3 separate regions of the Homo sapiens genome follow, and all the other regions are linked to region 1. The links come from fine-mapping of genetic effects on gene expression. A gene starts in region 1. Each other region holds a variant in brackets. All regions are shown on one strand. Distances are between the middles of the regions.

Region 1 (10,902 bases):
AAAGCATGCCAGTATCAGCACTAAAAATCTTAAAATAAATCAGAAATTTTTCCCTAAATCCCAGTCAGCCAGCAGACATCAAATAAAAGGTAAAAAAGTCCAATCTAATAATAAGGAATACTAAGACATACTCATGCCTGAATGCAATTACAACTGTACTTCACACAGAACTGGCAGAAGAGGATGGAGGAGCAAGAGTGGGAATTTAGTCTTTCTAAAAGGTCACCAAGTATGAATATTTTAAATCCAGAGACTACACAATTCTAAAAGTGAATGCCTACAAGTCCACTAAAAATGTTACCATGGAGCAAACACGCCAGTGGGAACCAAAAAGGCTGGTAATAACATTTACGGGTTGAAACTGGGGTTGGTGGTGAGGGTTCCTATTGCAGAAACTGAAAATCAGGTCAGGATAGGCCAGAACATCTCCAGCAGTGATGTTTTAATCTCATAAAGAGAAAACCAGCAGCTTGCTGCTGCTGCTGCAATCTCCATCAACTGTTCTGACATTTTCCCTCCCTCCCTCCCTCCTTTCCTTCTTTCTTTATTTATTTTGGGACAGAGTCTGGCTCTGTCACCCAGGCCGGAGTGCAGTGGTGTAATCACGGCTCACTGTAACCTCCGCCTCCTGGACTGAAGTCATCCTCCCACCTCAGCCTCCCAAGGAGCTGGGACTACAGGCATGTACCACCACATCCAGCTAATTTTTGTATTTTTTGTACAGATGGGGTCTTGCCATATTGCCCAGGCTGGTTGCAAACTCCTGAGCTCAAATGATCTGCCCACCATGGCTTCCCAAAGTGCTGGGATTACAGGTGTGAGCCACCGTGCCCAGCCAACATCTACCTTTCTAAGATCTAAATGATCTCACTTTCATTCTCTATCCCTGGCCAAACAGAAACAAAACAAAAATAAAAAATAAAATTTGCTCTAGGCAAAAATGAAAATAAAATTTAATCTTTCATTTTAAAGGAAAAGAGACCAATGCTCAGAGTTGATTTTCTTCAAGTTAGGACAAGAAACCAAGGCAGCCAGATTCTATACAAGAATGAGGCACCCTACTTAAACAATCATGCCTTCCAATCTTCTCAAATTACTTCAGTTTTAATAAACACACAAACATGTATGTACTTTACTATAAACCTGTAACGTGAAGCTACATGTGTTTTAATAACTATCATGGGAGCAGAGGTAACCCAGCTGGTGGAAGAAGCCCAGAAGCCTGGCTCTGCCAGCATCTGGCTGCACCACCTTTGGTAACATTGGGGCTTTCCTTTTCTCACCAGGGAAAAGTGTAGGAGGCATCCCAATTCTGTAATATTAAAATGTGGAAAGTTACCTGCAGTGATTTTAAGATGCCACTGATTATAAGCTCCATCTCTACCCAGATGTGAAATGTGAAAAGCTGACAATAGATGAAATGTGGTAGAAACATGTTCTTGCAGAAAGGCAACCAAAAAAATAGCTAAGACAAAGGTTGGCCGTGAAGAGGAGGAATTGGAAGAAACAGCTAGTCTGGATATCTATCTAGGCTGTGGGGCTATTTCCATCTGATCACAAAGCTCCCTCTTCTCTTTGGAAGAGTATCCCTCCTCTTGCTGGCCCTCAAATCCAACTGGTCTTCAAGTCTTATCCTGGACACAGTCTCTCACAATTACCTCTCTCAAGTCTGTGCTCATGGCTGTGGCTTCAGGTCAGGCCTTTTCACTGCCCTGGCCATCTCTAACAAACCCACAACAATCCACCCTACACTCTAACAAGACTGTCTTTCTGGAGCACAGCACTCATAATGTCCTCATTCTTATTCAAAAGCTTATTGGTGGTATTCTACCAAACACCTTAGGAGACGGAGCAGGCCAGGGTGTCAAGGTGATCTGAGCTGGAATGCTTTGTGACCCCAAATCAAGTGTCTAAACTCTGGGCCTTTTTCCACCTGTAAAATGGGAATGCTGTAGCATCCATTAATAATAGAAATAAGTCCTTGTGAGGGGCTCAGTGCAAGGTCTGACATACAATAGCTCAGTAAGAGTTAGCCATTATTATTACATCAATAACTTGCCTTTCTCACCTTTTCTTCCACTCCTGCCTTCTAAACCAGCTTCTGCCAATTGTGCTATTTGCTTTTTGCCCAATGATTCCACACTCGCTTACTCTCCAAACTCCCTCTTGCCTAGAACGCATGTCCTCCTATTCCTGCCTATCAACTAAGAGTCCTTTACAAAATGTAAGGCTAAATTCTAATTTTAATTCAAGTCAATTTAGTTTAATCCAATCATCCATTCGGTCCTTAAAACAGACGCTGTAGCTGACTTCCTGTGTTCTGCAGGCCCTTCTTAAAGGTGAAGCAGCTAGCTGAGGAGATTTAACTTCACTTCCCTGGTTCTGGGATGGGCCCCCAGCTTATCAAATGTCCACTGTTCCAGTTATTGCTTCAAGTAACCAAGGCCTAAGTCAATCACCTTAAGGTAAAGGACTCTTTGGAGGGTGGCAGGAAGTCAGGGAATCCCCATGTGAGATTATGGTGGCAGCTGCTGTCAGTCATCTTGGAAAATCAGTCTAGGACATAACAGACATCTGAGGGGACTTCAGAGAAATGGAGCAAAAGTCCTGCCCTCAGGACTTTTCAGGTCAGATGCACAGGTAGGTCTCAGTTGGGTTTTCTGTTTCTTGCACCAAAAGCATCCTGACCAATTCAGGAATGCTAGGCCCTTAACATGGATAGCTCTGCCATAAAGCTTTCTCAGATATAAAGATATAAGTGTCCCAGAAATCTGCTTCTGACTCTCTTTTGGTCCAAGGTGTAGATTAAGTATGTGTATACAGGCTTAAAGTATATACTAAATCAGGAAACCCTCTGGAATCAGGAACTGTTGTAATTCATTTTTGTATCCAGCCCCTCACACCCAAAATCAGTAACTGAGAAGTCAATGAATTAATTTAAAAAATGAATCAAGTGTGGGCTACAAGGAAGGGAACAGATTTTAGACAGATTTAAGAGACAATAAATTGTTAGTCTTGGATGGATTAACAAGAACCTTTAAACACAAGGTTAGATTTTTAAGTTGTGGAGTAACAGTGTTACATAATGGCACAGAGCCCACTGGGCAAATAATCCTGGCAGCACAGGGATATATGAAGGAGCAGAGATGTTGCAGGAGACAGAGCTATAGGAATTTGGACAAGTCACTTGTCATCTCTAGGCCTTAATCCTAGAGATTCTTTTTTATTTTTCTTCCACTTTAAGTTATGCGATACATGTGCTGAACGTGCATGTTTGTTACATAGGTATACATGTGCCATGCTGGTTTCCTGCACCTATCAACCCATCATCTAGGTTTTAAGCCCTGCGTGCATTAGGAATTTGTCCTAATGCTCTCCCTCCCCTTGCCCCCCACCACCCGATAGGCCCGGGTGTGTGATGTTTCCCTCCCTGTGTCCATGTGTTCTCACTGTTCGACTCCCACTTATGAGTGAGAATATGCAGTGTTTGGTTTTCTGTTCCTGTGTTAGTCTGCTGAGGATGATGGTTTCCAGCTTCATCCATGTCCCTGCAAAAGACACGAACTCATCTTTTTTATGGCTGCATAGTATTCCATGGTGTATATGTGCCACATTTTCTTTATCCAGTCTATCATTGATGGGCATTTGAGTTGGTTCCAAGTCTTTGCTATTGTAAATGGTGCTGCAATAAACATACGTGTGCATGTGTCTTCATAGTGCTCCTCAATTCTTAAAAAACAACTGGGGGATAAAACCTCACAGAGGTGTTATAAGAATTACGTGTGGAAAGCAACCGTTTATGTACATGTGCGTATTAATAAGTACCTGACACAGAAAGCATTCAAGGAAAGACTTATTTACAGGTAACTAATGAGAGGATTAGCCTTTTGATAACAGAAGAGCTGGTAGGCAAAGAGGAGGAATTAAAAAAAAAAATTACAAAATCTTTTAGGAGAGAAGAATGTAGCCAGGAAAGCAAGAGGTAAAACTCTCTCTTCACACTAACTACCCACCTAGGCACCAAAGTTACCCTCAAGAAAAGTAAACAGTTTTGCTTTGATTTGTGTAATTCAAGCTGGAAATAAGACACCCAAGGATGGATGCTCACCTCTAGAAGCAGGAAGACAAGCAACCATTATGCAGGGAGCAAAAGAAGAGGTAGTGGAAAAAAAGATTCTTGCAAACAGAACATCCAAAAATTAAGGTCTGTAACCAAGAAGAAGCTGTTGATTTCAGGGAATGGGAAGGAAACATTTTCAAACCACCATTTGGCAGACTCAATGCTGGGCTCTCATTTGCATTATCTCTTGAAATCCACAATGATCCTGCCACATAAAATCCCCATGTATAGACAAGGAAATTGAGTCAAGGAGGTGAGGTCAATATCTGAAGTTACAAGATATTTTTCTTGAAAAACATCAAATTTTAGTAAGCCTTCTACTGTCGCTTTTCAGCAAAGTTCTGTACTACATTCTGTAACATTACCTATCTGTAACTATCAATAAAAATTTCCCCTTTGTCTTCAATTAGAAATAGAAACGAAAATGCAAAAAGAGAAACAGTACAGAAAAAGTTCCTGGCAATAAGAAGTTAGAATCTAGGGTAAAAATCTAAAAGGAAAATGAGTAACATTTCCCTTTCAAGTGCAGAGCTTTCCTGGAGAATCCCAGGCAGTGTCTGAGCTACCAGAAAAGTAACCCACTTGTCCCCAATCACAGATGGAAGGCTAAAATGTTTGTCCACGGCCATCTAATGCAAAACCGCCTGTTTCTATCTGTAGATTCTGCACGAAATGCTTTTGGCTGAGACGTGCAAGCAAAACAAGTGCAGACCAACAGGTTATCTGCCAAGCGGTTAGGAGAATGAGTTACAAAACCTGACAAGCAACATCAGCTCTTCCGTACAATTCTATGAAGCACTTCCTGCCACGGGTCCCGCTATTTAAAACAAATTAGGCTGCTCGCTCCCCACAAATCCCATCTAGCACCTCTCGGTTCCTCAGTCTAGCTAATAAACCATGCACTGGATTCTTCCGAAAGAGACCCCCCGCCCCCGACCCCGCCACCTCCGCCACTTTGCATAACTGGCCAAATGCATTCTCCAAATTTGCAATCAAGGAGCTTAATTCACAATTGTGGATGGGGCGGGGGGAACCGCCAAGTGCAAGAACACGGAACGGTTGCAAGACGCAGTTCAGCAAGAACAACTCTTGCTCTAGGCATTGCTCCGTCGACCCGAGGTGGTGGGGTGGGAGAGTCTTACCGGCGTGGAAACAGTAAAAAGGCACTTTTCCTTACAACTCGCAAGACAACACACACTCTAGCTCCCCCGGCGCAGAGCACAACCGCCCCCCCGCCGCGCGCCTCCCTCGCAGCCAACCGCTCCCGCCTCTCCAGGGATCAGGCTCCCAGAAAGGGCCGCCCCGGTCGCCCCCGAGTCCCCGCCCTCTCGCTTTCCCACCAGCCTCATCCCTCCCTGAGTACCAAGGGCTGCCGTTGTCTGGTTTCAATAAAAACTGAAGCGGTCCCGAGCTAGCAGGCTTCCCTCCGAGGGGCGGACGGAAGGTCCGCAGGGTTAACGGAAGCGGAGAGAACAGGACAAAAAGGAAAGGCCGGAGAGTCCCCCCAGCGGCGCCCGGTGCCCGCAGACCCTCGCACAGGCTCTTCGAACTCACCCGGGTTTCGCCGACTCCAAAGAAAGCGCGCTCCCTCCGAGAGCGCTCCCCCGGCTCTCCCGCCGCGCGCTCCGGCCCGCAGGGCGGGAGGACCCAGGCGGACAGATCCATCCCTCCGCGTCTGGTGTGGGCACGGTGTCGTGCCCCGCGGCGCCTGTCAGCGCGCACAGGTGGGACCGCAGCACAGAGAACGCTCCCGAGCGCCCTGCCTCAGCCTCGGCGTGGGGCGAGCCGCCCGCGCCCGCACCCGCACCCCTTTCCCCGCGCCCGAGGAGCCGGGCTGTACCCCGGAGCCGGCGGAGCTGGAGGCCGCGGGCGGAGCGCGGGTTGCCCCGGCAGCTCTTTCTCGGCACCAGGTCCGAGACCTAACGGCAGTTCTCTCTGACCGCTTCCCGGCCGCGCGCTCGCGCGGGTGTCATGGCCGAGCGGCGGCCCCCGACGAAGTTTCCCGGAGCTGACGGCTTTACCTTTTAGCCCAAGGGGCGGCAGCAGCTTTGAGCAGCAGCAAGGCGGCGGCGGCGGAGGGAGCGCGGGTGGCAGCCGGCGCAGAGGCGGATGTAGAAGGAGACACCGGTGGCTAGGACCCGCGCGATGGGAAGAGGAAGGCGCCGGCTATCTACAATCAGAACGTGGGCTGACCGTGACGTCACAATGGCGCGGCCAGCCAATCGGGACCCGAAGGATGAATCAAGCGCTATGATGTCATGCGGCCCGGGAGCCAATCGCGGGACAATAGAACTTTCGTGATCGTAAATTCCAGAATCCGATGCGGTGGAGAGCCTAGGCCGGGGTTGGCCCCTCGGTTCCACGTGTCTCTGGGAAATTTTTTTCCCCTTTCTTCCTAATAAGCCTGCGTGGAACGCAGAGCCTGCGCAATAGCCCCGGTGAAGTTGTCGATGCCCTGAACTCTGGTTTTTTTACTGCCAGGCGTGGCAGGAGTCTGTGGCCGCATTTGGGTGGCAGAAGCCCACCCTCGTTACGGTCTCCTCTATGAGTTATGTCATGCTGAAGGGGATCCACTTCATCGTTAAAGCTGAAAGGGTTAAATGCCCACGGAGACCGCCGGAGTGAAGGTCTGCAGTTGAACAAGATAAAGGAACAAGAACAAAACGACTCAAAACTGTTGTAACCATAACTCCCTTGCAAAGGATTTACCGTGTATTTTTCTTAGGGATTCTGATTTTTCTTTGGAAGCCACTATCAACTCCATTTCTACTCTAGAAATTATTCTAAAGGATTGTTAAATGAGGAAAGATGGAATCAGTGTCTTTTCAGCTAAGCATATTTAAGCACTTAAGACAAAGGGGGTTCAGGGCATAAACGGAAGATCCTTGCTGTTTTTCACTGATATTTGGATAATTAAAGACCTTCATTAGCTTTGTATCCTACTGTTTCCCCATTCAAACCCCAGAGATTTAGCCTTTCTTCGTGTGCCCCTCTTGCTGTATTCTTACTCCTCTATGTGCATCCACCTAACAGTCGGCTATTTAATGTAGGCAAATTTATTCTTTTTTTTCTTTTTTTTTCTTTTTTGAGACAGAGTCTCGCTCTGTTGCCCAGGCTGGAGTGCAGTGGCGCGATCTCAGCTCACTGCAACCTCCACCTTCCGGGTTCAAGCGATTCTCCTGCCTCAGCCTCCCAAGTAGCTGGAATTACAGGCACGCGCCACCACACCCGACTAATTTTTGTATTTTTAGTAGAGATGAGGTTTCGCCATGTTGGCCAGGCTGGTCTCGAACTCCTGACCTCAGGTAATCCGCTCGCCTCAGCTTGCCAAAGTGCTGGGATTACAGACGTGAGTCACCGAGCCTGGCCGGCAAATTTATTCTTTTACATATTTACAATGTAATGCTTATCACGTGCCAGCTGTGTTCCAGGCAGTGGGCCATTGCAATAGGAATGCAAGTATACAAACCATGTACAAATTAAGTAAATTAAACATATACAAAGAATCGAGATTGTCAGTTGCCATTGAGCTCCACAAACACTGAATGACTTCAATTTGCTAGATACTATGTTAGGTATTCAAAATTTGAAACCTTCAAGGACTTCTTGGGCCTGGAAAATGATACAGTCAGGAAGCAACTACAATGCAGAGTGGTAAATGCTGCTATGGACATCAAGGGACATGAGAAAAGCATATGCTGGTGGCATAGACTATTTTTTTGAGATATCTCCTTCATTCTTCACGCTTCTGCCAGTAGTCCAAGGCCAGGGTTCATCTCTGTCATCCCATCTAAGTTTTGCCTTTCCAGGTTTTAAAAGTTTCTAATTTAACTTGAGATTCCAAAAGTCTTAAGTTTTACGCCGCACTTGTTTGAATTGTGCTTACCTATCAATAAAATGTTTTAAGCCCATTTGACCAAAATATCTTTAAGTTCAGGCTTATATAACTGTCAAGCTATGCATTAAATATCAAGTGATTTTTCTTATTGTATGATTAAGTATGACGTTTTGCTGTTTTTTCCCATCCCCCAAAGGCTGCGTTTTTACACAGTTCTTTGTTGATGTGTGTATCTTGGTTTCCATTATAGCATCACCACCCTGTATTGTAGTTGCTTTCTGATGGCATCATCTCACTCAATCCTTGGGGTATATGTACCCCACTTTAAAGACCACCGCTTTAGGTAGTAAACTCCGTTGAAGGGGAAAACATGTTGAATTTTGCTCCTTATTGATCTGTAGATCTTAGTACAATCCCTGGCATATAAGGGCTCAATAAATACGTGTTAGATGAGTGAATCTGTGAACAGTTACTCCCCCTCACCATCACCATCACTTTTCAGCTCCAGAGTTCCAATCCTCTGTCAGATAGTCACATCCCAGGATTATTAGATTATTAACTCCTCTCAAACATGTTGGTACGGTCATGTTCTCATTAGTTCTCCAGCCAGAGACTTAGAGTTCTCAGAACATATATATATATGCAAATGTATTATTTTACATATTACAATGTAATGTTTATCATGTGTCATATATCTCTGGGGGAAACTTCCTCCCACCCTAACAATTACTTCGTATTTCTGCATCATTGCACTCATGAGTAAAGCTGTAAGAAAAACAGTGGAGCCGAAACGACTCCCCAACTTAACTGTGGGATTTTTTCCAAATAAATCAAAAGAATACCTAGGATCCAATGCCAGGCTTACTAAATAACAGGGCTCAAGGAACCTGTTTTAGGTAGCATCAGAATCAGATTCCTGGCCAGCTGGGTTCTGGAAACTGTGCTGAAGCCATCCTTGCCCTTCTAACCCACCTATCCAACAATGTGAGCCCATGTAAGGTACAGTTAACAAAACCTTGTAACTATTACCTGTTTGTTCATAGCATCCACATGGTAGTCCCCCAAGAAATGATTGTTGAATTATCTTCATTCAATAGCTAACTATTAATATTTTCTTCTTTCTCCTTCATGTATTTATTTATTTATTTATTTATTTATTTTTGAGATGGAGTTTCGCTCTTGTTGCTCAGGCTGGGGTGCAATGGCACGATCTTGGCTCATTGCAACCTCCACCTCCCAGGTTCAAGCAATTCTCCTGCCTCAGCCTCCCAAGTAGCTGGGAGCGCCCGCCACCACACCTGGCTAATTTTTTTGTATTTTTAGTAGAGATGGAGTTTCGCCATGTTGGCCAGGCTGGTCTTGAACTCCCGAACTCAGGTGATCCACCCACCTCGGCCCCCTAAAGTGCTGGGATTACAGGCGTGAGCCACTGTGCCTGGCCTTCTATTTGTTTTTAAATTCTGGTAATATTTTTCCTTTTGCTCTTAGTTTTCATCATTGAGCTCAAATCTCCTCAAACCACACACTTCTAAGTGTATTAGAAGGTTGCTTCAGTATTGCTTTTGAAAAGGAAAGTACTTAACATCCTAGGCAATTTGTTTTATTGTTATAGCAGCTGCAGTTGAATTAAAAAATACAATTGGAACTTTCATTAGAATACAATTCTGATTAGTGAAACTTGTTTCATTAGGACGTATTTGCATGACATAATGAAACACATCCTTCCAGAAAAGATATAAGCCAATGTTTGCCTCTGGACATATCAAAGTTGACTAAAATATAGGTCAAGTAGCAGCTATTTTATGCTAAAGATGACACTGCAGTCTCTGTTGGTTCCTACGTTCTCCGCCTCCCCCCACAATCCTTTTTTCTTCTGTTCTAATTTGTGTTTTCTATTATCTTGCTGCCCAGAATTCCCACAGGCCACCTGGCTTGTCTTTGTCGGAGGCAGAGGTAGATTAAAGGCAGTTTCTTGTCCTCCTCAGACCTTGGAGTCAGTTCCATACTTCAATTGTTACTTTGCTATTCCTTTTCTTCATTGCTGTTCAACAATATGTCCTGCAGTTTATCTCTGTCCTTGTCCTTGAGTGTTCATCTTGATGAACATGAACTACTTGAAGACACTGCCCATGCCTGGTCTGCTATATTGTTTTCTTAATGACTAGCAGAATTTCTGGCAAATCACAAATGTTCATAAATATTCGATTAATGAATGAACAATTTGTACAATTTCTGGATTCTCTAGATTTTCTTCTCCACTTCCTTTTACACTCTTTAGTACTGTCTCCAGAAGTGACTGGGCAATGAAAGAGATCTGCATCCCAGTCTTCTGTATCCACATTTCCTTTGCAGGTGATATCATCCCCTTTCATGTGTTTGGATTTCATCTATGGTCGGCTGACTTCCAAGTGTATTTCTCCAGCCCACACATTTTCCCTGATTTCCAGACTTACGTACTTAACTACTTATTAATGACTTCTCTAAATGAGATATATTCATAAATGAGATATCCAAAAGACATCTCAAATTAAGCATAACAAAAAATGAACTCTTAACTGGCCTTCAAACCTGATCTTCCACAGTAGTCCCCAGATTTGTAAATGACAATTCTATGGACCCCGTTTCTCAGATCAGACACCTTGGAGTTACCTTTAGCTCCTCTTTTTTTCTCACCTACTACATCCAGTGCATCAGCAACACTCTACTACTTGACCTTTGAAACATATCCAGAATGTGTTTGCTTTTTACCATCTCCAACATGACCACCTGGTTTAAGTCACTATCAACCATTGCCTAGAATGTTGTAATGGTCTTCTAACCAGACCTCTACTTCTGTCTTTGCTGCCTACAGTCTATTCCCAAACCAGGTGCCAGAGTGATCCTTTTAAAACCAAAGCCAAATCACGTCACATGTCTGCTCAATGTCATCTAGCAATTTCTCATC
Region 2 (10,902 bases), 60 kb before region 1:
TTCAAAACAAATTCAAAGGAAAAAAAACTGACTTCTGGTTCTAGCAACGTGGCAAACTGAACAAAAGCAGAACCAACTCTCTCACTATAAACACAGGTAGGAAAGTGGTATAAAACACAGCAAAAACTCCAACACAATCAATTCTTACCTATAATGCGAGGGAGGTCCCCACAACAAATTATTCTTTAGAAAAAGAGAAATCAGCTTAAATTCAACTCCTTCCAAAATCTTTATGTGGAAAAGGCATGTTTACCTGAGATGACCCCCAACAATACTAGTTTGGGATGCTTACACAGAACACTAGGCAAACCTTTACTTCTGTTTTAGGAGGTAAAGAAATTTAACACAGACAATAATTATCCCAGAGGCATTACCTCACAGATATATCTGTAAGCAAGCTTTTAATAGAATACTTAAAAAGGCAACACAGCAAATGGTTAAATTTGGAGATCACTGTCATCTAATCTATATCACTGGGGGGGACAATACTTCCATGTTATGGAATAAAAAAAGAGCAAGCAGTGAACTTTCAGAAGTAAAAGATACATAGCCATTTAAACTAAAAACACAATAGATGGATGAAACAGATTAAAAACAAATGAAGGAAGTAGGAGTGAATGGAAGAATGCAAAATTTTCAAAGTGCCTAGAAAGAAAAAAAGATTACCCTACAAATGAGCAAAAGTGGGACCACAGCAGACTTCTCTGGAATAAATCTTCAAAGTGCTGAGGAAAAATAACTGTTAATCTAGAATTCTATGCCTTGATAAAATATTATTCAAGTGTAAAGGCAAATAACATGACACTCAGACTAAGATATTGCCCTTCATAGAAAGAACTACTTACGAAAAAAATTGAATCAAAAAGGAAAGAATAAATTTCACAGAGCAAAGAAAATCAGTAAACACTGATGGCAATAATGGTGATTATTTAGGACCTTAAAAAAAAAAAAAAGTGAGGCCAGATGTGGTGGCTCACGCCTGTAATCCTAGTGCTTTGGGAGGCCAGGGTGGGAGGACTGCCAGAGCCCAGGAATTTGAGACCAGCTTGGGCAACAAAGTGAGACTCCATCTCTACAAAAAATAAAAATATTAGCTGGGCACAGTGGCATGCTCCTGCAGTCCCAGCTGCCTGGGAGGCTGAGGCAGGAAGATCACTTGTGCCCAGGAGTTTGAGGTTACAATGAGCTATGACCATGTCACTGCACTTCAGCCTGGGCAACAGAGCAAGACCATCTTTTTTTTTTTTTAAAAAAAAAGGTAGAAATAACTCCTGACAACAGTAACATGAAAGATGAGGGGTCACAGCTAGAATCCTCTAAGGTCCCTGGTATTGTTTAGGAGAATAGAAATACTGACTCAACTGAAACTGTCGTAAGTTAAAAATGCATGGTAAACATCTATGGGTAACCACTCAACAGAATGAATAACTTTTGAATAAGTACAATAAAAAATAATGGTTACAAAAATTCTACAAAGCAGTAAAGGAGAAAAGAAGGCCAAAGAAAACATATATACACAAAAAAGGTGACAGAAAGTACAGGCATACCTCATCTTTGCTTTATTGCACTTTGTATATATTACAGGTTTTCTTAACTGAGGTCTGTGGCAACTCTGCATTAAGCAACTCTATTGGTACCATTTTTACAACAGCACGTGTTCACTATGTGTTACTGTGTCACATTTTTGTAATTCTCACAATTATAAAATATTTCTCAAAATATTTCAAATTTTTTCACTATTATTATATCTGTTGTGGCGATCTGTGTGTGGTTACTGAACTTTGATGTTACCATTGTAATTGTTTTGAGGTGCCATGAACCACACCTATATAAGACAGCAAACTCAACAAATATTGTCTGTATTTTAGCTGCTCCACAGACTTGCTGTTCCCCCTAACCATCTCTTTCTTCTCTGGCCTCCTTATTTCCTGAGATACAACAATATTGAAATTGGGTTAATAATCCTACAATGGCCTCTAAGTGCTGAAGTGAAAGGAAGAGTAGCATGTCTCTCACTTTACATCAAAAGCTAGAAATGATTAAGCTTAGTGAGGAAGGCAGGTGGAAAGCTGAGACAGGACGAAAGCTGGGCCTCTCGTACCAGGTTAGCCACGTTGTGAATGCAAAGGAAAAGTTACTGAAGGAAATTAAAAGTGCTACTCGTATGAACATAAAAATGATGAGAAAGCATTAGTAGCCTTATTGCTGAAAGTTTGAGTGGTCTAGGTAGAAGATCAAACCAGCCATAACATTCCCTTAAGCCAAAATCTAATCCAGAGCAAGCCACTAACTCACTTCAATTCTGTGAAGCCTGGGAGAGGTGATGAAGCTGCAGAAGAAAAGCTTGAAAATAGCAGAGGATAGCTCATAAGGTTTAAGGGAAGAAGTCATCTCCATAACACAAAAGGGCAAGGTGTAGCAGCAAGTGCTGCTATAGAAGCTGCAGCCAGTTATCTGGAAGATTTAACTAAGATCACTGACGAACATGGCTACACTAAACTGTAGCACATACCACTGCACCTGGGAGCATTTTTATTTTTAATTTATCTTTTTTTTCTTATAAATAGGGTTTTACTCTGTCACCCAGGCTGGAGTGCAGTGGTGTGGTCATAGCTCACCGGAACCTTGAGCTCCTGGGCACAAGCCATCCTCCCACCTCGGCCTCCCAAGTAGCTAGGACAACAAGCTCGAGCCATGCCAGGCTAGTTATAAAATTTTTTGTAGAGAGAGGATCTTGCTATGTTGCCCAGGCTGGTCTCAAACTCCTGGCCTCAAGCAATTCTCCCACCTCGGCCTCTCAAAGTGCTAGGATTACAGATGTACACCATTGTGCCTGGCCAGCATTTTTAAATTTAGGTATGTCTACTGTTTTTTTTTAAGATTTAATGCGATTGCACACTTAATAGACCATAATGTAAACATAACTTTTATATGCACTGCGAAACCAAAAATGGTATGACTTACTTTATTGCAATACTCATTTTATTGCAGTGATCTGCAACTAATGCTGCAATATCTGAGGTATAAAATAACTATTAACATGCTAAATGAAAATGAATTAAATTTCCCCATTAAAGACAAGAGACTGTCGGATTCAGTCATTAAACCCCTATGCATTTATCTGGTCAAAAAACTTACCATATTTGCATAAGGAGATATGTCTAAGAAGATTCTTGGCACACTGTTAATTGAACAACTTGCATAAACCCACATAGCTGGGCACAGTGGCTCACACCTGTAATCCTAGCACTTTGGGAGGCTGATGTGGGAGGATCACTTTGAGTCCAGGAGTTTGAGATCAGTCCAGGCAACACCGTGAGACAATGTTTCTACCAAAAATAAAAAAATTAGCCAGGCATGGTGGCACATGCCTGTAGTCCCAGCTACTCAGGAGGCTGAGGTGGGAGGATCGCTTAAGGCCAGGAGTTCTAGGCTGCAGTGGGTGAGGTATGATTGTGCCACTGAACTCCAGCCGGGGTAACAGAGCCGGACTCTGTCTCAAAAAACAACAACAAAAAACAATCTAACAACATACATATCCATCCAAAGAAACACTTATAAAATGGTGTAATAAATTCCAACACTGAAATAATACAAAGCAGATAAAATGAATTTCTAATTAACTATAATTAACATAATTATAATTAATGAATTACATCTATACGACTCAAGATGAATTGGTCAAAAATATACTGACTGAAAAAAATCTATTTGAAAAAGAGTTTAATTAGTATACCATTCACGTATGGTTTTTAAAAACTATCTTAGAACGTACTATGTGTTGTCATGTATACATATATATGTAGTAAAAATACATCCAGAGAAAAACTGTACAAATTTCCGAAGAAGTCTGGAAAGGGACTGTACTTTAGATGCATTTTTGTAATGTTTTCTTATTTAAACAAACAAACAAAAATCAAGCATTTGTTAGGTGCACAGATATCATCTATATAATTTTATTTTAAATATTTTCAAATAGTTCCAAAATTACAATTTAAAATAAAAATTGAAAAGGGGAAGAAAGATAAGTTTGGATTTATGCCAAGCCAGATGCATCCATCCAGCTTTTTCAAAATTACAAATTTTTTTCTTTCAAAATTACATTTTAAATGTTCTGAATATTTTAAAGCGCATTCTCTCACACTATTCACAACATATAGTTCTAACTGCAAGGGAGGAAACATACACAGATACTCAAAAAATAATCTTGTCTGTAACCCATGATTTATCTTTGACTACTAAATAACTTGAAAATGTGGTTCCGACATTTGCTTATTTTTGTATTCTAATACTCAGGATCCATTTGGTGGAGTAATCAGGTATAGTAACAGTGGGATGAAGAAGGTGGGGAAAACATTGTTTCATTCTAGCCTAAGCCAGTGAGTGTCAGTGGGGCAAGGATGGGATGCTAAGGGGCACATCATGAGAGTACTTTGAAAGGAATGCATCATAGTCCGTGGGAACAATGGGATAGCCAAAGAGGCTGGGAGAAAAAAAAATTCACTCTCTAGAGTTGAGTCCTCTTCCTTAGTACGCTCATGGCTTCACAGAGGAATTGGATCCTTCCACACAGTCCTCAAAAGTGAGAGGGAGACTGCCAGGCAGAAGTGGGAGTTTTAAGGGGTAGAGCCCAGAAGAATGAAAGAGCCTGGTGTTGCTGGGGTTTGAGTAGAGCTCAGCATAACAGATCGGCTAAGAAAGGCCGGAGTGCCTCCTTCTGAGGAAAGGAGCCAGCCATCCTTTCAACACAGTGTTCCTGGGGAATTCAAAGCCATGTGCACTGCACAACACTGACCCTGTTTTCTGGCAGCTGCTGCTGAGTCGAAGGATCAGTTCGTGAGGCACAGGCAGATCGACGGGGTTGCTCCCTTTTGGACTGTAACAAACACAATTAGATCCTCTCTGCTTAGGGTCTAAGAGGTCTGAGGCACAGCAGGAGAAGAGTAGACACATTGAATGGCTTCACATGAGGACAGAGCATCTGCCTAAGAGGGAAACCACCTGTAACACTCTAACAAAGGAGTTAAAAGTGGCTTTGATAGCTCACTGGATGGGTCAGGGGAAACCTGATCCAACCAGGTAGATAAGGCAGAGTGAGGGAAAGCCACCGTTTGGCACCATGTATGTAGAGGTTCTCAATTTTGGGACTGGAGACAAGAGAAAAGACACATGGATAGTGCAAAAAATCAGGCTTCTCTTCAGAGGACAAATGCCCTGAATCTCGGGTGGCTAAAAGGCGCACAAGA[T/G]TTTTAAGTTTGCTGTAAGGGCATCGTTTTACAAAGCTAAGTAACTAATGCAAACTAAGTTGTTTCTCTTCTATAACCTGGAATTTCATTTCCGAGCTTTCACCATGGACTGTGATATTAGACAACCCCTAATAAGCAAAAGCAAAAAGGATTGCTATAAAGTCCAATACTTTCAAATTAAAACATACCACTAATTCAAATATGCTCCAAATCAGGGATCTATGACCTTTTTCCTGGAAATAAACACTAAAGTTAATGAGATATAGAAGTAATACCTCTTCTCTCCTTTTAATTTTGTTTCTACCAAGTACACAAACTATGAGCAAGTCTATATTCCTTCTACATTTTAAACTCGGTTTCACAGTTTTAAAACTGGGATTTAGTTATTTTCCTTCTAGTAAATTTAAAGTTTCAGTGACTTCCTTTCATTTCCTTCTGATCATCTCCCTTCTTTCAAGACTTCTTCCTATTGGCCAGATGTAGTGGCTCATGTCTGTAATCTCAGCACTTTGGGAGGCAGAGGTGGGTGGATTGCTTGAGCCTAAGAGTTCAAGACTAGCCTGGACAACATGATGAAACCTTGTCTTTACGAAAAATACAAAACTTAGCTAGACGTGGTGGCATGCTCCTGTAGTCCCAGCCACTTGGGAGGTTGAGGCGGGAGATCAGTTGAGCCCAGGAGGCGAGAAGCAGTGAGCACCACTGCACTCCAGCCTGGGCAACAGAGTGAGACTCTGTCTCAAACAAACAAAAAAACCCCGCTTCTTCCTGTCTCCTTTAAGTGACAGTTAATTTTATTTTTATTAATCTAGAACTTGCTAAAGCAGCTGTGAATTTATGCCACAGAATTAAATAAACAAAAATACCAAAGACTACTTATTTAAAAAATTCTTTACAGCCCCAAATATGCAGATAAGCAGGAAGGTAAATAAAAACTAAAATAATGACCATTACAGGTGTGTGACCACAGAAGAATGGCTCTAACTCCTGGGACATTTCTCTAAAATGAGGGGCCCCATGGGGCTTCATGATCTCCTCAGTTCGTTCCATTGTAAAACTCCATGACTGCTCTTCTGTGTCTTAGCATTCAATGGAGTAGAAATGCTAAGTATAAAAAGAAAAATGGCCGGGTGCGGTGGCTCACGCCTGTAATCCCTGCACTTTGGGAGGCCGAGGCGGGTGGATCACCTGAGGTCAGGAGTTCAAGACCAGCCTGGCCAACATGGTGAAACCCTGTCTCTACTAAAAATACAAAAAATTAGACAGGAGTGGTGGCACATGCCTGTAGTTCCAGCTACTAGGGAGGCTGAGGCAAGAGAATCGCTTGAACCTGGGAAGCGGAGGTTGCAGTGAGCCGAGATGGCGCCACTGCACTCCAGCCTGGGCGACAAGAGTGAAACTGTCTCAAAACAAACAAACAGAAAAACGTGTAGCTAAAATGATATTTGAAGTTTGAAAAAGGACACATGACAATGGAATTATTGATGGGTTTTACAATATGTACAGGAGAAAACTCGGACAAAAACCAAATGTGAATACCATCAACTTGGAGCACTAGGGCTTATTTTCAACTTGGGTATATCTGACCTGGATAGCTTTTTGTAAACTTGATTTAATTTAAGGAAACATTGCCTCTTTGTCTATTACCTCTCTATGTACTCTAAACTGTGAGTTAAAAATGTAGTTTCCCTATTCTGTATATTTCTTAAATTTCTGTATTCAGTGCTTAGTCACTGCTCAAAGTCTTCTCTTCTCACCAAGCTATCAGAGGAAAATCTGTACCTTCTATTACAATGTGTTCAGAACCCCCCACATCCACTCAGATGCACACAGCTGTACTTTATACAGTGTTTTTCTTCTCTTTACCAGGGAATCATCTGTTTAAGAGAGGATAAATAATGAAATTATAGCTATATTTCTAGGGCTTAAGAAACATTTAAGGCAAATGCTTAAGTTCTCTAAAAATCACATGAAATATTTTTCTCTATTAATATTGCCATGTATAATAATAAACTCTGTAAGAGTTCTCTTAAAGACATGGCTGTATTATCTATCAATTATGGAAAAGTAAGCAGTTCACTCAGAAACCTGACAGCTTGCTGTGGTTTTGTCCCTTGAACACAGAAATGTGCATAGTGCTGGGGCCAGGAGTCACTCCTGTGCACTTCCCCTGGCTCCAGTCCTGAACTCTCCATCTTGGAGTCTAATTAAACTGACTTCATTCTAGAATAGGACAGAAAAAAAAGCAAAAAAAGGAGTTGTAAGCATTTCTTGGCATGTCAAGCATAAAAGTAATGCTAGGAACATCTACCATTCTATTCAGAATATCTGTACCTTGGCTTATGAAACATACATGGGAGAACAAGACACAGATATCCCACAGCTGCAACACCTCTGATAATCAAATATGCCTGCACACGCCCACACTCCTGCACACCACCACACGTAGACAGGGAGACACCATCATGGCCTGAGGCTGATGGAGAATTCATTTTGACCCCTGAACACTAATTTTAAGATTCATGTTTCTATCTCTCCTCTTCCTCCCACCTCTACCTTCTTCTTTACTACTCCTTGAAGAACTAAAACCAAAATGAAACCCTGAAAACCTATACAGGAGTGCCTGTATAGGTTTTATCCAGGGCTTAATTCTCCAGAAGAGTTAGAAATAGGTTGGTGCTGTAAGAATGAAAAGTGGGTAGGCTTTCCTGGAAAAATGTACACAAACTGCTTACCACCAGAGGGAAGCTTTCCTCCCCCTTTTAGCTTTAAAGGCTATAGTGTTACCCCTTCAAAATAGGGAGAAGAGAAGGGTTGATTCTGATTTTTCTTTCATTTTTAAGCTATAACATTTGCCTTTGAGATCATCAAATGTGATTTTCAACATTGCAGTGATATAAAATAACTGGGCCTGAACTCAGACAGACAATTCAAAACCTAAATGCAGATCTCACCAGTCACACTCCTCTTAGCTTTTAAAAAACAACTGAGATTTGACAAGTTATCCAATCAGAGAGGGTGATGTGCCACAAAACATACCAAACACAAGTGCCACCCACTTCCTTCCTCCCCTACCTTCAAACAAGAAGCAGGCACTTATTAGATGCTTAATAATAAAATGCTTTCACATGTGTTTTTCACATTTTGTTCATTTTCCACTCTGTATTTTGCTTGCATGAGAGTATTTCTGAAAATACTTTAATTTTGAATATCATACGAAACATAATAGAAGAATCAATAACAAAGGCTTCTATTTTAGATATTCTAGAAGGCATACTTGTACAAACAACTCTGACATTTTGAAAAATCGATTTTAAAACACACTCATAACGCATTAAGATACTTGCTTGCCCAGTTGTCTCTACACCCCAAGCGGCCACCTTTCCTCATTTAGGAATACAATTTAGGACAGCAATATGAGTGCATTTATGTGAAAGGAAGACTGTGTTAACCTTTGACTTACCTCACAGAACATATACAGAGACAGCAGTGTGAGTCCAAGGTTATACACCACTAAAATCCCCCGGCAAGAGAATGGCTGTTTATTCCTCATGTATTTTGGTCCCAGCCATACAATTAGTAAATATATGACAGAGCAGATAAATGTGGGTATATAATTGTCCAGAAGAAACCATCCTTTTACTCTAGTATCTGAAAAATTAAAAAAAATTAATGATATATAAAAACATTCACAACTTTTCAAACGTTGAAAAAATTTCTCTAACCATGATGATATAAAAGTCACCTGGTATTCATGTTCTTAATTCCAATAAAGCAATCAGGAGAGGAGGCATGGATTTTCAATACATATCAAACAAGGTGAAGCTCCTTGTTACATGCTCTGAATAACAATGTATTATTCATGATTTTTGCTCAGTAAAATAATAATACAAATATTCTTTCCAAAGAACTTAAGAAGAAAACAAGGAGAAGGCTACACTTCCCATTAATTGGATTTATTAACCAGGTATACCAGATTACACATAGGGTGATAAAACCCAAGAAATGGCAGTCATTGAACTCTGAAGTCCTCCATCTCAGCTGTGTGTCAGTCGGCAAGTGTGGCCAGCACATGCAGACTCAGAAAACGTGCTGCTTAGCCACGTTAGTGAAACTGGCACTAATTAGAAAGGCAGCCTTTGCTATGAGTGTAATGGTCAACAGCAGAGAGGACAATGATTTAAAAACAAAACAAGGGCTGGGTGTGGTGGCTCATGCCTGTAATCCCAGCACTTTGGGATGCCAAGGCGGGTGGATCACCTGAAGTCAGGAGTTCAAGACCAGCCTGGCCAACATGGCAAAACACTATCTCTACTAAAAATATAAAAATTGGCCAGGCATGGTGCTGCACACCTGTAATCCCAGCTACTTGGGAGGCTGAGGTGGGAGAATCGCTTGAAATTGGGAGGAAGAGGCTGCAGTGAGCTGAGATCGTACCACTGCACCCCAGCGTGGGCAACAGAGTGAGACTCCGTCTCAAAAATGAAAATAAAAACAAAACAAAACATGAAGGTGAAGCAGCAATGATCAGATAAATGCCTATTTAAAGGGCAGTATTTAACAAACTGAGGAGTAGTAGCATGAGAGCGAAGACCTAGGCGGATCCAGAGGAGATACTGGTATAGGAAGGGCCTCTCCTGCCCCTATTCCTTTTCTTAGGCAGGGAGGAGGGAGAGGGAAACAGGTCAGCCGCCAGCAGCAAACTGACAACCTCTTCTTGGATGGCGGGAAACTCCTTGGCAGCCAGAGCCCCTAAGTGTTATGTGTCCCCTGAAAGATTCAGCTTCATACTCTGGCTGACCCCAGGAAGCTACCTCTGAAAAGCATGCTCCCCTTTGAACCCTGCTATGATGTTCCCCGAAAACCTGTGGCTCCTCAATCTTAACTACCCGCCAAGGCTCACAACTCCAGAACATGAGGCACATGCAGCATTCACCTACTGCGTCTTCAGAGAAGCAGCAGTTGGGAGGACAGCCTTTGCCATTTCTTTAATTTTTTTATTATTCATTTATTTATTTATTCTGAGACGGAGTCTCACTCTGTCGCCCAGGCTGAAGTGCAGTGGCGTGATCTCAGCTCACTGCAACCTCTGCCTCTAGGGTCCAAGCGATTCTCCTGCCTTAGCCTCCAGAGTAGCTGGGACTATAGACACACACCACCACACCCCGCTAATTTTTGTAATTTTAGTAGAGACCAGGTTTCACCATATTGGTCAGGCTGGTCTGGAACTCCTGACCTCAGGGGACCCACCTGCCTTGGCCTCCCAAAGTACTGGGATTACAGGAGTGAACCACCACACCCGGCTCTGCCCTTTCTTTGACCCCTCCCAGACTGGACCATCTTGCTACTCTCTCCAGTCGTTTTCACCTTGATTTCACAGAACAAGAACAGGCTCAATAAAGCATATGTCCACGTGGGGAACTGTCAGTCAGTCTTCCTTTCTTGCACTGTACACACTAAACTTTCCCAGCATTTCTCTCATGGCTGGCTTGCTTTGGCTTCAGAGGGACATGCCCTCCACACCCTCCCCACTAGTTATGCTATGGTCACGGAGGGTGTTACTGTCAGTCCGGCAGAACTGGTTGTGCTTAGAAGTCATTCAGGGAAATGGCTGGCCCCAGGGACTTTAAGGGGATGCTTAACACCTTTTGTTCTC
Region 3 (10,902 bases), 80 kb before region 1:
GTAGTAAATAGCAAAGCCTTTCTAACAGGTATGCTATGCCACCTCCAAACACACATAGAATTCTTCTAGCATCGACAGAGGTGTCCCATCTGTGCCCTAGGATATGTATCCTTCTATACTCAGTTCTAAAGTAAAGGTGTAATTTAGGTTCTAGCTTGGGGCCATCACAATTTCCCTCTCCCATTGCCCTTAAGAAAGTAGCTTTGTGTGCTTAGGATTTGGATTCTGACTGTTCCCTTGTTAAGATCATGGGGTGACATTTGGCCTTGTTGTTGTTTTTTTGAGACAGAGTCTTGCTCTGTCGCTCAGGCAGGCTGGAGTGCAGTGGCGTGATTTCAGTTCACTGCAACCTCCTCTTCCTGGGTTCAAGTGATTCTCCTGCTTCAGCCTCCCGAGTAGCTGGGATTACAGGTGTGCACCACCATACCCAGCTAATTTTTTGTATTTTTAGTAGAGACGGGGTTTCACCATGTTGGCCAGTCTGGTTTCGAACTCGTGACCTCAAGTGATCCACCTGCCTCGGCCTCCCAAACTGTTGGGATTACAGGCATGAGCCACCACACCCAGCCCTGGCCTTGGTTTTAAAATACACTTAACCCAGTACTCCTAGAGGGCTGGAGCTCTGCAGGAATGGCACAGGCAGCAGGCAGTTGGGACTTGGTCAACCCCTAACCATGTAGCCTTCCTGGAGGACTGAGAGCCACAGCAATTAATAAGGGAGCAGGGTGCTGGGAGCAGTGGCTCACACCTGTAATCCCAGCACTTTGGGAGGCCGAAGCGGGCGGATCACGAGGTCAGGAGATTGAGACCATCCTGGCAAACATGGTGAAACCCTGTGTCTACTAAAAATACAAAAAAAAAAAAAAAAAATTAGCTGGGCGTGGTGGCAGGTGCCTGTAGTCCCAGCTACTCGGGAGGCTGAGGCAGAATAGCGTGAACCCGGGAGGTGGAGCTTGCAGTGAGCCGAGATTGGGCCACTGTACTCCAACCTGGGTGACAGAGTGAGACTCCATCTTAAAAAAAAAAAAAAAAGGGGAGCAGGGAAGGGCACAAGGTTGTTGGAACCTGGTGCTGATGCTTTCCTACAAACAGGCACCTGTTTCACTGGGAACATTGTCAAGGGGAAAGCACACAATTTGCTGAAAAGTGGTAGCTTGGTTAAAACATTGTCAAATTCATCCAAGGGAAACCTGCATCTATGCCCATTATTTGAACAAAGAACACCAGTAGGAATGTGTGGACACAATCATTTAAGAAATATTTGTTTATGAGCCAATGTGGGATTTCAATCCCGACTCATCCCATCAGGGGTCCCGTTTTCAGATTTCAAATGCCATCTCTTTGGTGAGGAGCAATTTTCTGGCAAAGGTCTGAGGTACCCTTTGAACCTGCCCTATCTGACAGAAGACTCCATCAGCTTATAACTGAGACTAATGTGAGTCCTGGTTCTCGTTATCATCATGTTCTGGCTCCTCCCTGGCACTGCTGGTGATGGGAGCAGGACGGCTAGGGCACAGGCCAGTGACAGGAGGCTCTGCTCAGAATGGTTCCTTTACACATAATCACTACTTCCTCTGGGAGCTCTGAACAACATTCTACACATTTCATCAAGGAGAACACCCAGACAAATTCCACTCTCTTCCCACTTGACCTCATTTTTAAAACAAGCAGTTTCACCCACAGATCCACTCGAGTGCAGTGTGTCATCTCCCTCTGGGCCTTCTATGCATTTGCTCATACTGGTTCCTGTATGTGGAATGCTGTCTTCCCAGCACCTTCAGGCTCCAACTACTGAAACCCAGATGGTCTCTGAATGCTCAGATTAAAAGCCAACTCCTTTACAGTGCTTTTCTTACCCACCCTTGCTAGAAGGGTTCTCCCTCCCTGGACTCTCATGGTAGCTGGTTTATACCAGTTTACGGCAGTCACCACAACCATTTTACACAGAAGGCACATGTGTGTATGTTTGATCCCAATTCAGTAGAGGCTCCTGCGAGGGCCGGTTGTTTTCTCACAGATCCCTGTTTGCTCAATACACCTAGCTCAGTCCTCTGTACCAAGCACTCTCCCAGTGAACAAGGTCACATTCTGCAAAGGCCTGGCCAACAGAGTAACATAAATGGGGCAACAGACAGGGTGGTAGGTACTGTTCAGGAGAGTCCTGATTATGTGAGAAAGGGAAGCATTACAACTGGGTCTCTGTCACCACTACATTAGCCATTCACTGGATCCTGCACTGCTTGTTCCTACAATTTCCACCCCAGAAGTCTTCCTTGATCTGATCAAGAGTCGAATCCAGACATCCTCTGCAAGCTATAGCAAAAACTGGCCCAGGAACTTTCTTTTCATGAGCCATAAACATACCGAAGAAAGAGAGAAGATAAGGACTACAAAAATGTCAAGGATAACAAAAGCAGGTTTTAAATCTATGCCTGGAGTAAGAACTAATGGCCAATGAAGCAATGCTGAAGAGCAGAGCAAAAAACTGACAGCAACCACTATTTGGCTCCATCTGCTCCACTGAGGACAATCATTTCCAAATTAAAGAGTGTAAAGAAAAACCTGGTTAGGATTTGAAGTCCAAGAGTGATAAGGGGATAGCAGGAAACACCTGTTTTAAACGAGTTCTCATGAAAGACATGTCAGTCGCTGAAACAACCTGTGGATATGACTGCAGAATTGTTGTCAGAACTCCAGGGAAACAATGAACGAAGTCCAGATACTGATAATCACTGCCCTATTTTCCAAAGTAGATTCTAAAAACTCCAGAATGGTGAACTTAATGTAAAACTCTGGCAAAATCAGGAATAATATAGACGGTGAACATTTGACTCCTAACAATTGCTGATTTCTTTTCAACACTGATTTAACAAAGAAAATGTCACACGAAATAACTTCCTTCCCTTTTTTTGGATAGGATTACTAGAGCAGCCAACCAGGGAAATAACAGTGAAACAATAGCTTACAGCTGAAAGAGACCAGTGGGGTGAGTTGAGATTACAATCCTGAAGTTATCACTTACACTTTACTCTGAGCTAGATGGGGTTCCAAAGGCTTTATATATACAGTATCATTAGTCATCTATTTAATCCTTACAAGGACCCTGTAACATAGAAACTAACATTACTCCTATTTGGCAGAAGAGAAAACTAAGGCAAAGTTTTCTTGCCAAAAGGTCATACAGGTAGGATTTCAACCCAGCCAATGTGGTCTCCAAGTTGTACTTCTCATATTAGTCTACAATGCCCTTCACATGATTAGCAAGGCTGCCAAAAATAGAGGGAGAAATGGGAATCCTCCCTTTTCCATACAAGAAAAAGGACAGCAGAACACATCTGCCCTCTCTCTCGCCTCTTATCCACTCACTTCTCTGACGGGAGGAGGGAAGACTTTGATTGCTGCTTGGGAGGTGCAGCTAAGCACACTTTCTTGGCATGGTAAGGTCATCAGTGTAGAATCTGCCACAAGGGGAGTTTACAATTTAAGGTAGGTAAATTCCAGGACTGATATTTAATATATTTTAATAATCACTTTATCACCAGACCAACCCTCAGAGCAACCACTGGTGTGCTACTGAGCCCTGGTAAGTTAGGTTAATAGAGTTATTAGCAAGGGTTAATTAGAGAGCCACACTGTGGTCTTAGTTTCACCAATCCAGCCTTCTTAGTAAGACACATGCTATTTTGATTCCTACTGGTCTAATTTCCAGTATTTTTTCAATTTGTTCTGAACTTAGAGGGGAAAGACAGGGATATAATTTATTCCCATCAACTCCCCAACAATCCTCTTACACCTTCTGGATAATATCCCAAGTACTAAATGCAGTTTTAGGTGACATTTCTCTGGAGTTCTGACAATTCTGCAGTCACATCCGCAGGTAATTTCAGCAACTAACATGACTTTCATGAGCACTCATTTAAAACGGTATAGGCTTAGTCTTGGCTCTTAGGTGCTTTCTAGTTTAGTACCTAAGAGCCTATACTGGGGACCATATGGTATGAAGTAGATGGAAGGAAGATGGACCATCCATGTCATCTCTCCTGTTGTAGACGTGAATGTACCTGTAAATTCAAAATAAGTAGGGTACGCTGGGAAGGGCCACAATCTGGGACATAAAATGATCTTTGGCAAATAAAATGATTGAGCTTTAGGTCCAAGGGGAGGGGACCTCATTACTCTAGAGTAGAGGTCAGCAAACTATAGGCACAGGCCTTCTGTTTTGTAATTTTTTTTTTTAAAGAGATGGGGTCTCACTCTGTTGCCCAGGCTGGAGTGCAGTCACATGACCCTAGCTCACCGTAACTTCGAACTCATGGGTTCAGGCGATCTTTGGCCTCATCCTCCTGAGTAGCTGGGACTGCTGGTATGTACCACCATGCCCAGTTAATTTTTAAAAATTTTATGTAGAGATGAGGTCTTGCTATGTTTTCCAAGCCTGTAAATAAAGTTTTATTAGAACACAGCCATGCCCATTCATTTACATATTGTCTATGGCTGTTTTTGTGCTCCACGATGGCACAGTCAAGTGGCTGCAACAGGGACTGTATGTCCTGCAAAGCCTGAAATATTTTCCAACTGGTTCTTTCCAGAAAAAAATTTTGCAGAAGACCTATGGTCTAGACCTAGGAAAGTAATTCTAACATTCTCAGGGTAAGGGGAGAGATTGGGGCCAATGGGGAGGAAGGACAAAGGAGCATATTTAGAGCTGGAACCTTTAGTGGGATTACCTGGAGGAGGCAGAGGGGACAGCATTAGGGTGGAACCACCACTATGCCTTATTATGCAGGGTCCTTCCTCATTGAGAACTAAGCAATAATATGGCCTTCCTAACTGAATTATTTATATCCATTTGTGTAAGTTCCTAGACAGTGAATTAAGTGGATTTTTCTCCAGTTCTTCAGAATTGCCAGCACAAAAAATGTAAAATGCAGGCACAGGTAATCAAAAATGTTTTAATGATTACTGTTTAGACATTTAACAATGTAGGTATATCCAGGTGAGCTAAGCACACTTTGACAGCACACTATTGAATGTTATAGTTTCTGTATTGAAATATGTAAAGACATCTGCAAATTAGTACCTAGCAATGAAGACATACATTTATAAATATACACATTCTAGGTTTGATAAGGTAAATGTAAACAGATGCCATGACTCCTTTTCAAACAGAAAACCCACAAGACTAATAGAGAACCAATAGGCTCCCTATAGTACGAATGTGCAAAATTAAAGCATGGTAAACTGATATTTACATAAATATCAAACCAACAATTAGTTTATACATTGTCAATGACCTTCTAAGATATGTCATGAGTGGTTCCAAGAATATCTTTCCCCCAATGGAGAAGGTATTCAGAGGCTAAATTCCGACACTTTAAAATGACACACATCATAGGCTTTACCTGTTTGACCACTGCCTCAAATGTGTGAGATGTGATTTTATGATAAGCAGTCTATTATTTTTAAACAAGAGGTTCTAAACACATCTTTAGATTCTAAGCAGAAAGAAATTACAAGTACTATTAGATTTACATTAAACAAGTTACCTCTATCAAATTTCTCGATTCTCTTATGCTGTAGCTATATTTGATTTTACCTTAAAAAGTTCTAAGGTCCTTTCCCCCCCTTTGTTAATTTTGGTAAACTAGGCACATTTTACAAGGAAATCTGTGTCAAAACAGATAACAGTGCATAAATCAATCCAAATTTAGACCCTGGCAACCAGTTCCCCATTGCTCATCTAC[G/A]GGACTCTGTCAAACGGTAAATAGGCAATCATCTCTCTTGAAAAGTATACATCCTCTCTCGCACTGGTGGAAAGCAAAATTGACTTTTTGTTTGCTGTATAAAAACACTTAGCACTTCAGAAATTAAAAATGGCCTACTCACCCTACACCCTTCCTAAAATCTCGAGGACAAAGAATATATATTTAAGTTTCATCACGACTGCTGTAGAGCCCCCCCCTTTTTACATTAATAGTGGCACTCAAAATAAAAAAATAAGATCTGTTAAAAAGTTAAACTGACTGTTCCACTAGATTTGAGCCTGCTTGATTCAAAGCCAATAGTACAAAACTGAAGGTGCCGTGTCTGATTTCACATCAACAAGTCACTGGAAATTATGTCACATTAGTTTCATAAATCATGGTCTTTGATTTTTTCTAAACAGAGCTATTACAAATTAATACAAACTTGAAACATACCCTAATTTAAACTAATAAGCTTTGGGCCCTGCTTTTTAAATTTTAAGGCATGTGTGTTTCTCTACCATAACAACATTGTACAAATTTACATTTACAATCACATGCATGATCTACAGTTAAAAAAAAAAGTTTGGATTACAGTGTTTTTAAATTGTGAATCACAATTCAGCACCTATCATGTTATAACTAATAAGGCAACAGCAGTGTTGTATACTATAATAATACTCCCTTTCCACAGTCTAGCGCAGGGGTCAGAGAGCCCAGAAATGTTAGAAATCTTATCCCTACTTATATAATCTGTATACGTTTTCTAGGGGTTTTGAATTGATGAAAGAAGTCCTACATGAATCACACTATTGTAGGCCAGACTAGTTACAGCAGCTGTTAACGAGCATTGGGGCACAACTCATATTGTGCTTACAATCAGATGACGTGGTTTGGAGGGTTTCAATTCTTTGACTTCAATCCTTCCGCAGCTTCCTTGGCTTCACATTGTTTTCCAGGGGTGAAAAGCTGTTGGTGTGTCCATTCACAGCAGCCATGGACCCATTCTGGTGGTCCTTCAGGTGGTCTTTCCTTCGGGAGGCCCCTTTCTTGTTGTAGGTCTAAAATGTGTAAGGGCAGATGAGAACCAAATGACCACAGTTTTCTTTATAGGGAACTTTACTGAGAATTGCATCCCTAACACTAGGCCTAGTTTCAAGATCAAATCTTATCAAGGAGAAACTCCTGAGGTCAAGTCCTCATTGACTAAATCTTTTGTCACTGGTTTCAATCATTCTTCCTTTTTTTTTTTGAGGCTTAGCCTGAGGTAAGTTAACTGAATCACAGGCTGCAACAGAAATACTATTTAAAATGTCACATAGAAAATTCAATTTACACTTTGCTTTGCCTTTTAGTATCTGGATGGCAGATGACAGGGGTTATGTGGCCAAATTGGTCTTTCCCACCTGGCAGCAGCTCTCTTGACACCCACATCCCTTGTTCGTCTTCAAAAGTTCCTCACTGCCTCGGCGACTATCTCAGCCTTCATGAACAAAGTGCTATGCTGCTATAAGTAGTTAGAATAAATGTGATTTCAGCTTCATCGGGTCCTATCCTTTCACCTTCCTTGTAGCTGGTGTATGTCCCACAGTGCAGCCATAAACTATGAAGCCCAGAAGTATATGACTTCCACTGAAACTCAACATGCCACACACAGGTGCTTGTGGGCACAGAAGAAGAAAGGACAAATGTCTGAGCCTCGGGACTTGCAGCCTCTGCCCTTGCTCCTGACCTCCGTGTTTTGCCCAGATCAGCAGGCCTTATGGCTACCAGGCACTGGCAACAAAGGCAGGACACATGTCATCTGGGGGGTGACGCATGGCAGGAGAATCAGCAGTGGCTGCAACGTGGTCAGGCTCCACTGGAAATTATCTGCCCTAAATGGATCTTTCTGTGAGCAAAGACCTACATCACCACATCATATGCTTAGGAATGAACCGAATCCTCACACCTGAAGACTGAATGTATAAGAAAGCTGGGACAAAAAAGCAGATCTCCATATCTGAGGACTGTGATAAAAATCTCTTCTGAAATTTCATTTGGCCATGACGTTCAGGGTAGTGAACTGAGAGATTTCTGATTGAAATCACCTCTCACGTCTCTGCTGCAGGTCAGAGGGAAGCAACATAGGGTCCTGCTGCACAGTTTTCCATTTCCCAGGGGAATCCCAAGACTTCCTCACCCAGGCTCTAGAACAGGATTCTAGTGTCTTCCAGTGAGCTGTGAGCCCCCCAGAGGCAGGGGCTGCTCTTGTCATAGTGACTCCATTAGAGGCCAGAGCCTGTCACCCAGCAAGGGCTCCACATGCCCATTAAGTAAATAGATGAGGGCCTTTGTTGGTAAAGGCCCCAGATTCCAAGTCCCAGAGAAGGGTGAGATTTACCTGAATGTAGAAGTTTGTGAAGAGAGCAATCAGGGAAATCATGTATCCAATCTGGAAATACAACCAACCAAGAGGGAATGTGCACGGCCAGATGACCCCGCAGCTGGTCTGGATGATTGTCAGCACAAACTGAAGCTAGGGGAACAGAGGGGATGCAGCTGAACAGGGACAGTGCATGGACGAGGCCCCACACCAGGCAGACTTTTTAACCAGCATCACCTAAATTTCTGAATTAACACTTACTACCCTTGCTGCAGGTACAGCAGTCACTTCATGAACACAACACATACACTATACTTATCCTAAACTCTAGGTGTGTTTGTCTTATATATATTCTTCCTCTGCCCTCCAAGCTATTTAAACTACCTTCTCCAAATTTCAAGGATACACTATAGAGACATCCAAGACTTTTTGTTTTTATTTTTTGAGAAGGAAGAGCAAGTGTGTATGTTGAAAGGGCACTGATAACATCACTGCAGGATGTGCCACCTGGCTGGACATCCTTCCAACTCCTTATCCATGGACGCTTCTGGTTTGGTGAAGGCTGATGAGTAGATTTAAACCTTTACTGGCAAACAACACTAAGTGCATTGATTAATTTTGATGAATAAACCTTGAAACGCATGTGAACTGGTTAGAGAAATGGTGGAAAGATGTTTTAAAAAGGGCTAGGCTCAGGCCGGGCGTGGTGGCTCACGCCTGTAATTCCAGCACTTTGGGAGGCCGAGGCTGGCGGATCACAAGGTCAAGAGATCAACACCATCCTGGCCAAAATGGTGAAACCCTGTCTCTACTAAAAATACAAAAATTAGCTGGGTATGGTGGCACACGCCGGTAGTCCCAGCTACTTGGGAGGCTGAGATAGGAGAATTGCTTGAACCCAGGAGGCAGAGGTTGCAGCGAACCGAGATCGCGCCACTGCACTCCAGCCTGGTGACAGAGCGAGACTCCAGCTCAACCCCTGCCCCTCCCCCCAAAAAAAGGGCTAGGCTCTGCACACTGTATTTCTAGCAGCTCCAATGTTTCTATGTAGAGTTTTTTGTTTTTAATTTTTGAGACAGGGTCTATGTTGCCCAGGGTGGCCTCAAACTCTCAGGTTCAAGAGATCCTTCTACCTCAGCCTCCCGAGTGACCGGGACTCCAAGCCATGACCCACTGTGCCTGGCTGTTTGCCTTCTCTTTTTTAAGGTTAGTACTGCAGACTGAGGAATAACTAGGAGTGGTGCTTAAAATAAATCCTGACAACCTGGGTAGGTTTAATCTTCCACCTCAAAGTACAGAGCCTAACGGGAGACCAACTTTGCCAGTCTGTTCTTTTAAATTCTGCTTCCGCCAGACCCAAAACTGTGGTATAAATCAATTTCTGCATCATTTCTCCTCAAGTATAACAAGGAGGTTAATCAACAATTTTCCTTTTTCACAGGTGGGTGAGAAAAAATTAACAAGGACCATATAGCAGCTGGCAGAGAGGTGAAAATGAAACATCAAACACTTCAGTCTCTAAGATTTTCTCAGACTTTTTTTTCAGATTGTTATTTTTAAATATTGAAAAATCATAATTGACTTGAAGGGATCTGAATCAGCTTGGTGTGTTTAGAAAAATGTGTTAATAATGCAAGGACAGGGCAAAGGGTTTAATGTCCACACCCCTCAGTCAGCTAGCTTTGGCCTATTGACTCAGTGTCATCTATAAAATAGGGACAATAATATGTGTTTTTCTTTTTGGTAGAGACAGGGCCTCACTATGTTCCCCAGGCTGGTCTTAAACTCCTGGCCTCAAGTGATCCTCCTGCCTCGACCTCCCAAAATGCTGTGATTACAGGCGTGAGCCACTGTGCCTGGCTTGGGGACAATAATATGAAATCAGGCTACTGGAACAATCTATGTAAAATCATGTACTTAGTATGAGTACCCAACATGTGCTAAACACTTAGGAAATGTCAGTGTTTAATATGAGCAGTAGTAGTATTAATTAGTTCATAGACGAATTCATGAGAGGAGAGAAAGAGGTTACCTATAATATACTGATGAATGCAGAAGGCTTAATCAAGGATGGTGAGAAGTATCAGGTGAAGTGGCCTGGCCCTGGCAGTAAACCAGGGGAGGAGCTGTTAACTGAAGCAAACAGCTGCCATCCTCACCAACAGGTGCTCCACTGCATGGGGGCTGAGGGGTCATCCATACCTGCCAAACAAATATCCTTGCTGCCTAGTAATGGGCTACACATACCCTGGACTCCATACTACTCTCCAGCTCCTTCTAAAACCCCTGGAAACATACAATTTTCATTTTGGATTTTGGACTATAATTAGAAAACACACACACATATACACACATACATGCATATGTGCTTATGTGCAAAAACTCAGAAGAGCTGAACTTGAAGTTGGCAAATTAGATTCTAGACCTCTTTGTACAATTCAACTAGCTGTATGCCCATGGTCACAGTTCACTATCAGTTCAAAACAAGAAAATTCCCTAATCTACCCACTTCAAGGAATTTAATTACATCAAATGAAAAAGGGTGGAGAAGGGGCATCTTAGATGCTATTACATAACACTAAAGCCAGGAAGAGGTCTGTATCCACCAGGAAGTAAGTCCTGGGGAAAGAGGCCAAGTCACTCACCAGCTGCCCCTGAGTGATGTACTTCTTCCACCAGAGGTATGGACGCATGGAAGGGACTGACGACAAACCATAGTAAGAGTACATGAGGACGTGGATGAAGCTATTAAGTGTGGCACCAAAATAAGCTGCAGGAACAGAGGGATTTGGG

What was found. PIP is the estimated chance that this variant, and not a neighbour inherited with it, causes the effect.
Region 2: its variant is the best candidate, but not a certain one, in a credible set for the expression of ELOVL5 in whole blood (TOPMed, PIP 0.59).
Region 3: its variant is the best candidate, but not a certain one, in a credible set for the expression of ELOVL5 in whole blood (INTERVAL, PIP 0.54).

What each region holds. Positions count from the first base shown.
Region 1 is chr6:53,342,676-53,353,577 of GRCh38, forward strand. ELOVL5 (ELOVL fatty acid elongase 5) reads right to left here and starts at 6,275. Exons shown (of 8, transcript NM_021814.5): 1 at 6,142-6,275. RefSeq lists a silencer at 5,676-6,115.
Region 2 is chr6:53,283,067-53,293,968 of GRCh38, forward strand. It overlaps ELOVL5 (ELOVL fatty acid elongase 5), which reads right to left. Exons shown (of 8, transcript NM_021814.5): 3 at 8,710-8,897. Among named protein-coding and RNA genes, the nearest start is that of MIR5685, 12 kb to the left of the region's middle. RefSeq lists an enhancer at 23-192. The variant T/G (reference allele first, on the strand shown) is at 5,247.
Region 3 is chr6:53,262,466-53,273,367 of GRCh38, forward strand. It overlaps ELOVL5 (ELOVL fatty acid elongase 5), which reads right to left. Exons shown (of 8, transcript NM_021814.5): 6 at 10,755-10,879; 7 at 8,128-8,262; 8 at 4,939-6,805. The coding sequence ends at 6,662. LOC124901332 (a long non-coding RNA gene) reads right to left here and starts at 338. Exons shown (of 4, transcript XR_007059612.1): 1 at 1-338. The variant G/A (reference allele first, on the strand shown) is at 5,745.